3 linked regions of the Homo sapiens genome follow. The protein of the gene in region 1 purifies or fractionates together with the protein of each later gene. This does not show direct contact. Each region holds a gene or a part of one and is shown on either strand. Other genes may lie near its edges. The genes, in order: TPTE2, TEDC1 and KIFBP.

What was found.
Region 2: the proteins of TPTE2 (region 1) and TEDC1 purify together in Homo sapiens (affinity purification with mass spectrometry; 2 studies listed by BioGRID and IntAct, with this or other methods). This does not show direct contact.
Region 3: the proteins of TPTE2 (region 1) and KIFBP purify together in Homo sapiens (affinity purification with mass spectrometry; 2 studies listed by BioGRID and IntAct, with this or other methods). This does not show direct contact.

What each region holds. Positions count from the first base shown.
Region 1 is NC_000013.11:19,422,377-19,425,532, forward strand, and holds the end of TPTE2 (phosphatidylinositol 3,4,5-trisphosphate 3-phosphatase TPTE2), read right to left. Parts: intron 2,642-3,156; coding exon 2,571-2,641; intron 789-2,570; coding exon 686-788; 3' UTR 501-685; downstream 1-500. UniProt on the Homo sapiens protein: Acts as a lipid phosphatase, removing the phosphate in the D3 position of the inositol ring from phosphatidylinositol 3,4,5-trisphosphate.
Region 2 is NC_000014.9:105,489,413-105,493,358, reverse strand, and holds the start of TEDC1 (tubulin epsilon and delta complex protein 1), read right to left. Parts: upstream 2,114-3,946; 5' UTR 1,984-2,113; coding exon 1,837-1,983; intron 1,738-1,836; coding exon 1,659-1,737; intron 1,253-1,658; coding exon 1,050-1,252; intron 781-1,049; coding exon 625-780; intron 1-624. UniProt on the Homo sapiens protein: Acts as a positive regulator of ciliary hedgehog signaling. Required for centriole stability. May play a role in counteracting perturbation of actin filaments, such as after treatment with the actin depolymerizing microbial metabolite Chivosazole F.
Region 3 is NC_000010.11:69,012,803-69,016,402, forward strand, and holds part of KIFBP (KIF-binding protein), read left to right. Parts: intron 1-2,738; coding exon 2,739-3,600. UniProt on the Homo sapiens protein: Activator of KIF1B plus-end-directed microtubule motor activity. Required for organization of axonal microtubules, and axonal outgrowth and maintenance during peripheral and central nervous system development.

The sequences.
Region 1 (3,156 bases):
TACCAAAGATTACTTATCTTCATATTTACCACAGTCTTCTTACCCCAACCCCCATGTCTGTGTGTAATTAAAGGAAGCTTGTCAAGTAAGCTACCTATTTAATGCTCGGAATGAAAGAGAGTGTGTGTTGGGAGTTGGGGAACTGCTTATGTGAAACATTTCTCTCTTCTGGATTTAAAACTTAGTCTTGGTTGCCAATCTGTTAACAGACTGTTTGTAAATGAAGGGGAAGAAAAATATATAAATTAGCTTTCTAATAAATCTGAAATTACAAATGTGAACCAAAGCAGGGAATAAATACTTGACCAAAAATATGTAAGTAAGTGGGTGTTGGGGAATCACAATTTTTAAATATCTCAAGTTTTTGCCATGAAAGTTCTATTTCAAAGTTCTTCAAAATGATGCCTGATGTTCCTGCATACTGTGTTCCAAATTTATGTAAATACAAGATGGAAAGTGTGTGAAGTATGTGCCTTCAAAAAAGAAGAAAAACACTGACATTTTATCTATATATATTTAATAGATTTATGAAGAACATATATAAACATATATAAATATAGATGCATCATCAAGGAAGACTTAGGACACATGAACATGTGGCAGGGGTTGGAAAGAACATAATTCTTTCCCAGAAGGGGAAGGGGGAGCTATACTTAGTCGGATCCAGCTACAACATCATTGGAAGTCATTTCTCGCCAAAAAGTATCTCCACAGCAAATTCTGGTGGATAAATTTTCCATGCTTTTTGTTTATGTGGATTATCCAATTCATTTCTTGGTAGACAAAGCCTAAGAATAGAAAAAAAAAATTACATTTTATATTGGGGCTCACCAAAAAGCCACGCAGTTGGGTACCCACGTTAGAGCTGGAAGAAACAAAAAAAAACCTCACCATGAATAGAACCCCAGACCCTTTTTTGCATTTCAGTTGGCTCCTTCCACCTTTTTAGTGAGACTTAAAAATACTTTAATCTTCAGCAACACATCAGTAACACATGCTGACTCTCTTAGCATTGCTTTATATGGAATTAATGACATCCAAGTTTAATAAAATATCTAAATTTCTCTCTGTGACAGAAATCAGTCAGGATAGACATGAATGAAAACCCAGGAATAAAATACTATATCTCTTTTAATTTATGTGTGAAGTTGCAATTTTTTGAATTTTTACAATCAGACCTTGGAAATGACCTTGAGCAGTAGGCTATAACTCCCATATGCTTAGCGTTCCAATAATGGAACACTAGGCATAAATTGGTTAACCCATTTATGCCTGGTGTTCTAAATGATAGAAGTTAGCATTTTTGGCTAAACAACAATCTCATAACTAACAAAAACAGCTTTACCAAGTAGTATGTAAATTTAAATGTTACAGAAATCTTTAGAAATTTATATAAAAGTAAGAATAAAAGTGATCTAGCTTATCACTTCTCCAAAATGAACGCAGTGTTTTAAAGGAAAAAAACGGTATCCTTTAGCAAGAACCACTTTTGAGGAGCAGCATCAAATGAAGCTCCACCCAGGTCTCACTTTTTGAGGGACTTTGCTCATGTTAGAAGAAAAAGCTTATTGTTTGTATGCATCTAAAAAAAATACTTGTAAAAAATTTCCATCAAATCCAAAGTTGACTCTATCAAAATCCATTAAATGTTTTGCATTGCAAGTGTGTAGACCAGAGGTTTAATTTCCTGTTGCCTTGCTGGACTTAAGGAGTTATTCGATCCAGTTCACGTTTGAAGAAAAGATTAGGACTGGATGTAACAATAACTATCAATTCATGCCACATATAATCATAGCCACTTCTTCAACTCTGACCTAAATCATTTAAAAAATATTTTGTCCTTTTGTATTGAAGAGTATGGTTGATACAAAAAAAAATCTCAATTTTTCACCATCACAAAACAAATGCTACTTATAGTGGAGAACTTCTAGACTGAGAAATGTGGTTCCAAATATGGCAGGTTTTTTTGGAACAATAATCTCCAAACCCAATTAGTAATTTTTCAGAAAGTTTTCCCAATTCAGTTATTAGAAAGCCACATTTGAATGGCTATTTAAATAGACTATTACTTAATGATATTTCTTAGCTGTATTCCTTAATACTGTGTCTTGTAACTTCTCCCAGATATAAGTGTGTCCGTCAGCTTTTCAGCTAGCTGAAGCCTCCCTAGGTCCTGCCTTACTTTAGCACAAAAGTTGATGGTGGTTCGTCATTGGTAAATCAGCACCTACTGACAGGGACCTGACATACTGAAGGTGCTGAGCAGACTCATATTGAACTTCTCTGGGAGGAATTTACTACCAAACTTAAGATCTGATGATAATACTTTTGAACTCATAACACAGTCCTATGGCATGGACCCTGAGGATACTGCAACAGTGGGTCTCAAGAACAAATGTATTTTTAAAATAACCAAAGTAAGAGGAGTAAGGCAAGGAAAAATGGTGGCTCAGGGATTTTTTGCTTTCTATAAATTAAGTTTATGACAACCAGCAAAAGACTTGCCATTACACCTTATTTATAGACATTGAAGATTAGGCTGTTTCTATGGGTTTCTATTATATTCATACCTGTTATTTTGAATAAAAGACGTGTTGAACCAGAAGAAAAATGGACAATTGTCATAGTATTTAGGAAGATTCTAAAAAGAAAAAAAATTTCAAAGTAAAACTGACACCAGGAACTAATCATTCCAAAGAAATTAAAGTTCCTTTCTTTATTCCTTTATATATTTATCAAACAATTATAACCATTAAATAGGTAGCACTCTGCAATCTATAACAATACACTCAAGACACAAAGGAGGAGGCTTTAAGAAAATGCTATTGCATTCTCTTGCTGTTTCTATCAAAATTTTCAAGGAATAGTGTTTTTCCCATGATAGGTCTTTAATTTAAATGCTGCTATTTGAATCTGGTTTAGATAGTGCCAAACAGATGCTACTAAGGACCTATGCCTATATATACCCAACTACATTGTAGTGAATTCTTATAATTTTTTTGTTGCCTCAGCATCCCTTTTAATTATAAATTGTATTTTCTGATCTCAGAAGCGGGGTTCAGTCACCCTCAGCAGTTTCCAGTTCACCTCCTCCCAGTTTCTCCATGTGACTGATCCTGATATCTGCCTTATACAACCTTCTCCTGATGACCACTT
Region 2 (3,946 bases), on another chromosome or scaffold:
GGCCAGGCCCGACGGGGTGAGAGGTCCCTGGAAAGGCCAGCTGAGCAACAGACCCTCTGCAAGGGTGGGATGGGGGGGTCTCCAAGGAGTCCCGCGCTGGTGGGAGCCCGCCGCTGCCACAGACCCACCTGTCAGCGCTGGCCTCACAGTGGACACACCACTGGGTACCTGTGCCCCTGAGCCAGCCCCTGCCACCTTCAGGACCCCACAGGAGCTGTCCACCCCGCAAGTCAGCCCCCACCAGGATGTGGTGGCAACAGGAGCTGTCTTCCTCCCCCTCCAGTGCCCAGGAGGGAGTGGCTTTCATGGCACAGACCCCATCCCACTGTTCACAGAGCTGGAAGTCCACTGGTAACTTTTGGGAACAGAAAGGCAAATTCTGTGAGCTCTCTGACACCCGTTTCTGCCCACCATTGCCCACCCCACTGGGCTCCCTGCCCAGCCCTGCCCCCTACAAGGACCACCGGGAACCACGGGCTCAGGCTTTGGGTAAGCCAGGGCAGGAAGGCCCACATCCAGCCAAAAGCCTGTGCCAGGCCTCACGGGACGGGCTGCAGGGACTGGCAGCTGGCGGCCTGCAGCACGGGACACAGCCCCTGAGTGGAAGCCCTGTGCCAGCTCTACCTTGCTCAGGAGGGCGCACTGCTCCTGCTGACTGGACACCAGCTGGCGCCACCGGAACCGCAGCTTTCCCATCAGCCACTGCACATGGCGGACATCCACAGGACCCTCTGCTTCCATGTGGGGTGCAGGTGGGCCAGGGCTGGCCAGGGCCTCACACTGGAGAGGGGCAAGGGTCAGGCCCTGCTCCCACCCCACCCTGCCCCCCAGAAAAGGCCAGGATGGAGACGGTAGTGGAGGCACAGCCAAAAACAACGGGTGCTCCCTGCACAGGGAGCCTCCGTGCTTTCAGCTGGGCAGCTGGGTAACCCTTCATGGGACTGCCCTGAGGAGCAAAGCAGACAGAGGGGGCTGACCCAGGCCTGCCCTTGCTCTGGCCCCAGGAGTTGAGACCAGGGCTGGCTCAGCTCACCCTCACCCACACGCACCTGGCACACAGTCATCTCGTCACCCAGAGGCACTCGGGCCTGGGCCAGCATCTGCTCGGGCACAGGTCCTCGGGCCAAGAGCCAGGACAGAGCCAGCAGCAGCTCCCGACTGCCCTGCGAGCCATCCTCAGGTAGTTGTGCCAGTGCCAGCCTCGGGTAGCCCTGGGAGCATAGTGCTGACTTCACCAAGCGGGCTTGGACCTCTAGGACAGAAGACCACCACCTTAGGGGGACCACCCACCTGGAGGTGACACCACCTGGATCCCTCCAGAGACCCCCACAGGTCACTTGAGCAGAAGCTCAAGGCCTAGTTCAGAAGAGATGATAGTGGGAGAGCTAGAACTCAGACCAGGATGAGGAGACCAGGGGCCAACAGGGACGTCCCCAGGGCTTTGTAGGAGCAGAAGCCAGTGCTACCCAAGGGGGTGGAGCTAGGGCCCATCAGGGGGCGTGGCTTACCGGGGAAGGCGGAGTTTTGAGGAGCAAGCGGGGTCAGTGTTGGGTGGGGGCTAGAGCCTGCCGGGGCGGGGCTTACTGGGGAAGGCGGGGCTTTACAGGAGTAGGCGGGGCCAGTGCTACCGGGTGGGCGGGGCCAGGAGCGGGGCTTACCCAGGGCGAGCGATGCCAAGGCGTTGCCCGCAGGGAGTGGCGAGAGCACACGGAAGAGGAGCTGCCAGAGCGCGGAGGTCTGCGGAAAATAAAAAGCGGGCGGTCAGCGGAGCCGGCCCAACTCCCTGCGAGGGCCCGGGACCCCACCCGGCCCGCCTGCCCTCCGCGAGAGCGTCACCGCCTCCGGACGGTCGAACTTGGCGCGGCGGAAGATCTCGGGGCTGGGTCCCGAGGGCAGCGACCGACTCAACGCGGCGATGGCCTCAGGCAGGGCCCCGGCCCGGGCCCCAGCCGCGGGGTCCACCCGCTGCCGCCGCCTCCCCATGCAGCCAGCACCAGCCTCTTTCGGATCGCCCGCCTCCGCCGCGGCCCGGGGCCTGCGTCCAATCACCGCACGGGCCGGGTTTAGTGCGGCGGCTGGGACCTGCGCCCAGTTACCGCTCCGGCTGGAACCTGAGCCCAATCATGGCACGGGCCGGGTCCAGCGCCCAATCACCGCGCCGGCTGGGACCTGCGCCCAATCACCGCGCTGGCCGAGACCTGTACCCAATCACCGCGCTCCCGAGACCTGTACCCAATCACCGCGCTGGCCGGACATGCATCCAATCACTGCGTCGGCAGGGTCCCGCCTTCGTGTCCAAGCCCAATGAACGGTTCCCCTGGAGTTTGAGTGTAGTCTATTCTGTCTCGTGCGGACCCACTTCCGGGCTCCTGGCAGGGCTGTTGATATGGAGAACACCGCAGAGTCCGCCCTTGCAGGCTCAATCGTCACGACACCCGACACCCCGCCTCGCTCAGACCCCACCCATCAGCGCCTCACGCCCCTTGGCAACCTAGCAACCGCCGGGCGGGAGCGCGCAGACTCCGGAAGGCGCCCTGTGGGGCCGCTTACGCAGTCGGAGCGGACGAGCCTCGCCCCATCGCGCCGCCTTCCAGGCTGGGCCGCCAGGAGGCGCCCAGAGCCCGCCGCGCCGCACAGCGCAGACCCCAGCGCGGCCGGCCCCTGGCCCCTGGCGCGAAGTCCCGGGCAGCTCCCCCGCCCCGAACGCGCAGCCGGAGCCCGCGGCAGCCTCCTCAGGCGCTCCCGATCCTCGCCCGCCCGCGGCAGCGCTTCCCTCTGCCGCCGCCACGGAGCAGCCCCGGAGGAAGCCGGCGCATGGAAGCAGCTGCTGCCCGGGCGCCGCTGAGCCGGGCCCGCCTGCACGGGCGGCCCCGAAAGACGCGGGCCGGGAGGAACGTGGGGCTGTCTGCGGGGATGGAAGGTCGGGCTGGCTTCTGGCCAGCGGCGCCTCCGGGCATTCGTGAAGACCCCGGGCAGCGTGTCACCGGGGCTGTTCCCGCGATGCCCCTGCACCTCCCGGGGCTGCGAGGACGGCGGGAGAGGGAAACTCAGTCCTCCCTGGACCCCCAGCCCTGGCTGGACACGCCCACGAGAGGCGCAGCCCGAGGGGTCCCGGCCCCACCTTTCTTCTCGGCCTCCTTCGCCCCCGACCTCCTCTTCCAGGCGGCCCTCCCGGCCCCGCCTCGGGGCCCCCCCCCCAGCAAGCCCCTCCTCTCCCTCCCCGCACGCCCTCCGTCCTTCCCCGCCCGCAGCCTCCTTCCCTCCGGCGCATCGCGATCTCCTTCACGGCGCCAGTAGGAGGACTGCGCTCCTCACCCCGCCCACGCGGGTTTCTTGAAGCTAAGGGGCCTCCTCCTCGGAGCGCCTACTGCACCTGCCGAGCTACAGGGCGGCGGGAGCCAGGGGGATGGGAGCAGGAGGTGGGGAACCGCGGCGCCACAGAACTTGGCAGGAGGCGTGGGGGAGATGGCGGAGCAGCTCTGCGGCCTTGTTCAGCGCTCTCCCAACCCCCGAGCTTGCGGATTTTTCTCTGCACCAGGTGTCGCTGTCTCAAAGATCTCAGTTCCCTCAGCTCCACCCACCACCGTCCAGCCAGAAACCAGCCTCACCTCAGCACCCCCTGCCCCCATCCCATCAAAAGTGCTGTGGCTCCCAGCTCTTGGAATTCCAGGAATCCCCCAATCACCCCCACACACCCCACCCTGCGGGCCACCCTAGACTGCCCCCACAGCACCTGTCGAGCTGAGCCTGCAGCACACCCACCACAGCCCTAAGGCAGGGCCAGACCCCTGGGCTCTTTTAAACCAGTGGGTGTCCGGAGGGGTGGCCTTCTGCCAAGGCCGGTATCTAAGTAGCCAGTGTGGGGAAGAGGGTCTCTGAAGGTGGCCAGTCAGCAGCGGCTGGCTGAGTTGACAAGGGAGTTTCCAGAAGGCCCCCCAGCCCCTGT
Region 3 (3,600 bases), on another chromosome or scaffold:
GAATCACTTGAGCCCAGGAGGCAGAAGTTGCAGTGAGCCAAGACTGCACCACTGCACTCCAGCCTGGGTAACAAAACAAAAGAACTACCTGAGACTGGGTAATTTATGAAGAAAAGAGGTTAATTGACTCACAGTTCCTCAGGCTTAACAGGAAGCATGACTAGGAGCCCTCAGGAAACTTAGAATCATGGCGGAAGGCGAAAGAGAAGCAAGCATGTCTTACCATGGCAAGCAGGAGAGAGAGAGAGGGCAAAGGGGGAAATGCCACACACTTCAAAACCATCAGATCTCATGAGAGAGCTCACTCATTACCACAAGAACAGCAAGGAGGAAATCTGCCCCCAGTGATCCAGTCACCTCCCACCAGGTCCCTCCTCCAATTTAATGTGAGATTTGGCCAGGGACACAAATCCAAACCATATCAGTGGTAAATAATATAGAACCTTGTGAAACTACTAAACGAAAGAAAACCAAACAAACAAACCTCAACACATCAGAAGCATAGGTCTTGAAAAGATGAAGATAATTTTAGAGGTCAGAGGGTAAAGAGGAGGCATATTAAGGAAAGACAGGAAGTAGGGAGAATAACTGTGGGGCTTTATGTGTAGAGAATTTGGAGCCAGGAAGAGCTGTCAAGTTTATTCTGGTCAGGTAAAGAAAGCTGGAAAAGGAGGGTTGCAGGGACTATTGGAGCAAAACAGTAGGCTAATTTAAATAAGCATCCTAGAGAGAACATGTAAGTAAACAAGCAGCCCAAGAAGGAAGGAAGTATACAAGATTTAGAGACTTATGATCTACATTTGAAGTAATTGTGTCAAGCAAATCGCACTATGATTTGACCCTTACCTTTCATTTAGTTGATGTTTCTAGTCTGGGAACTTAAAACTTCATCACTTGGTTAGTTTAAACTCACATATTTGCCATGCTACTAAACTACTCAGATTTTCCTTAAACCCAGTTTTGTTTTTTGAGATGGGGTTTCTGTCACCCGGGCTGGAGTGCAGTGGCATGATCTCCACTCACTGCATCCTCCACCTCCCTGGCTCAAGCAGTCCTCCTACATCAGCCTGCCAAGTAACTGGGACAACAGGTGTGTGCCACTGTGCCCGGCTAATTCTTTGTATTTTTGTTAGAGACGATGTTTTACCATGTTGCCCAGGCTGGTCTTGAACTCTTGAGCTCAAGCGATCCACCCACGTCGGCCTCCCAAAGTGCTGGGATTACAGGTGTGAGCCACTGCGCTCACCCCTGACTTTATTTTTTAACCTTAACTTCATCCTTTATCATCTGTATATTTATCTGAAAGACCTTCTTCAGTTCAAGCTTTAAGACATACATAAATTTATTCAATTAAGTATTTATTTATGCCAACCCTGTGCTAGTCATTGGCCAAGGATACTATGATGAACAAAAATGAACCTAGCCTTTAACTTCATGTAAAAGTACAATTTTGCTAAGTTCCACAAAGGAGAGACACATGATATGAGAAGGCACAATAGGAGGAAATAACAAGCAAGCTCTGGGGATGAGTAAGTAGGAGTTACCTAGACTGAAGAAAAGAAGGCACACCATGTCAAGGAGCTGAAGCAACATGTTTAGAAGTTCTGTGGCGTAAGGGAGGATGATATCAGAAGGGATGGAGCAAAGGCTGTGAGGTTGGAGCTGAGGGAGAGGGAGTGTGATATAAGCTAAAGTTAGAGTTAGAAAGGGGCTGGAGCAATCAAGGCTTTGAAGCATTGTTGTCTTCATCTTCTGAGCATTTGGAAACCTTGAAGGGTTTGTGGAAAGATCATTGGTGAGACAGTGTCAAGTGAAAAGAAGAAAAGGCCTTGGGATCTATTATTTATTTTTATTGGCCAAGAAGAGCTTACCCTATTTCTTAACCACCTTAGTTATTCTTTCTTTTTTTATTTGCCCCCCCCCACCCCCAAGAGGTAGAGGAGATAAAACTTTAACTAGGAAGGTAGATTTAACTCTTTGTTCACTTTGATGTCTTTAAGAGACCTAGAGCATTTCTGTCTGATATATTTCACTAAATAACTAATAGCATAAACATGGTAGCATTAATCTTAATGGCATCCTTGTGAAACATTTTTATGATGTAGATTACAGTCTTTTTGTTTGTTTGTTTGTTTCTTGAGATGGAGTCTTGCACTGTCACCCAGGCTGGAGTGCTGTGGCGCAATCTCCACTTACTGCAACCTCTGCCTCCTGGGTTCAAGCGATTCTCCTGCCTCAGCCTCTCAAGTAGCTGGGATTACAGGCGCCTGCCACCATGCCTGGCTAATTTTTTATATTTTTAGTAGAGACAGAGTTTCACTATGTTGGCCAGGCTGGTCTTCAACTCCTGACCTCGTGATCTGTCCGCCTTGGCCTCCCAAAGTGCTGGGAGTAATGTATCACATATATATAATGTTTCACAATTCTCAAAGTACTTTTACATGTAGCATTTATCTTATTGGAAGGAGTAACTGTAAATAAATTTCAGTTCCTCAGAATAAATGATATGTAAGCAGCTTGTCTATTTAAATACTTTTTTTTCCACATTTCTTGAGTTTTTAATATAATCGGAAGAAAGAAAGAAGTTTTCAAAGGTGTTTAAGATTATGATACCCTTCTAAACCAGGCTGGAAAGTAAGAGACTTCTCTTCTAAAAAACTCTGAAGTTTGCTTTAATATTATTTAACAGCAGGAGGTGAGTGTCCTACTTAACCATAATTTATTTTTTTTTCCTTCAGGACAACATAGGAGAGCTTGATCTTGATAAACAGTCTGAACTTAGAGCTTTAAGGAAAAAAGAACTAGATGAGGAGGAAAGCATTCGGAAAAAAGCTGTGCAGTTTGGAACCGGTGAACTGTGTGATGCCATCTCTGCAGTAGAAGAGAAAGTGAGCTACTTGAGACCTTTAGATTTTGAAGAAGCCAGAGAACTTTTCTTATTGGGTCAGCACTATGTCTTTGAGGCAAAAGAGTTCTTTCAGATTGATGGTTATGTCACTGACCATATTGAAGTTGTCCAAGACCACAGTGCTCTGTTTAAGGTGCTTGCATTCTTTGAAACTGACATGGAGAGACGGTGCAAGATGCATAAACGCAGAATAGCCATGCTAGAGCCCCTAACTGTAGACCTGAATCCACAGTATTATCTGTTGGTCAACAGACAGATCCAGTTTGAAATTGCACATGCTTACTATGATATGATGGATTTGAAGGTTGCCATTGCTGACAGGCTAAGGGATCCTGATTCACACATTGTAAAAAAAATAAATAATCTTAATAAGTCAGCACTGAAGTACTACCAGCTCTTCTTAGACTCCCTGAGAGACCCAAATAAAGTATTCCCTGAGCATATAGGGGAAGATGTTCTTCGCCCTGCCATGTTAGCTAAGTTTCGAGTTGCCCGTCTCTATGGCAAAATCATTACTGCAGATCCCAAGAAAGAGCTGGAAAATTTGGCAACATCATTGGAACATTACAAATTTATTGTTGATTACTGTGAAAAGCATCCTGAGGCCGCCCAGGAAATAGAAGTTGAGCTAGAACTTAGTAAAGAGATGGTTAGTCTTCTCCCAACAAAAATGGAGAGATTCAGAACCAAGA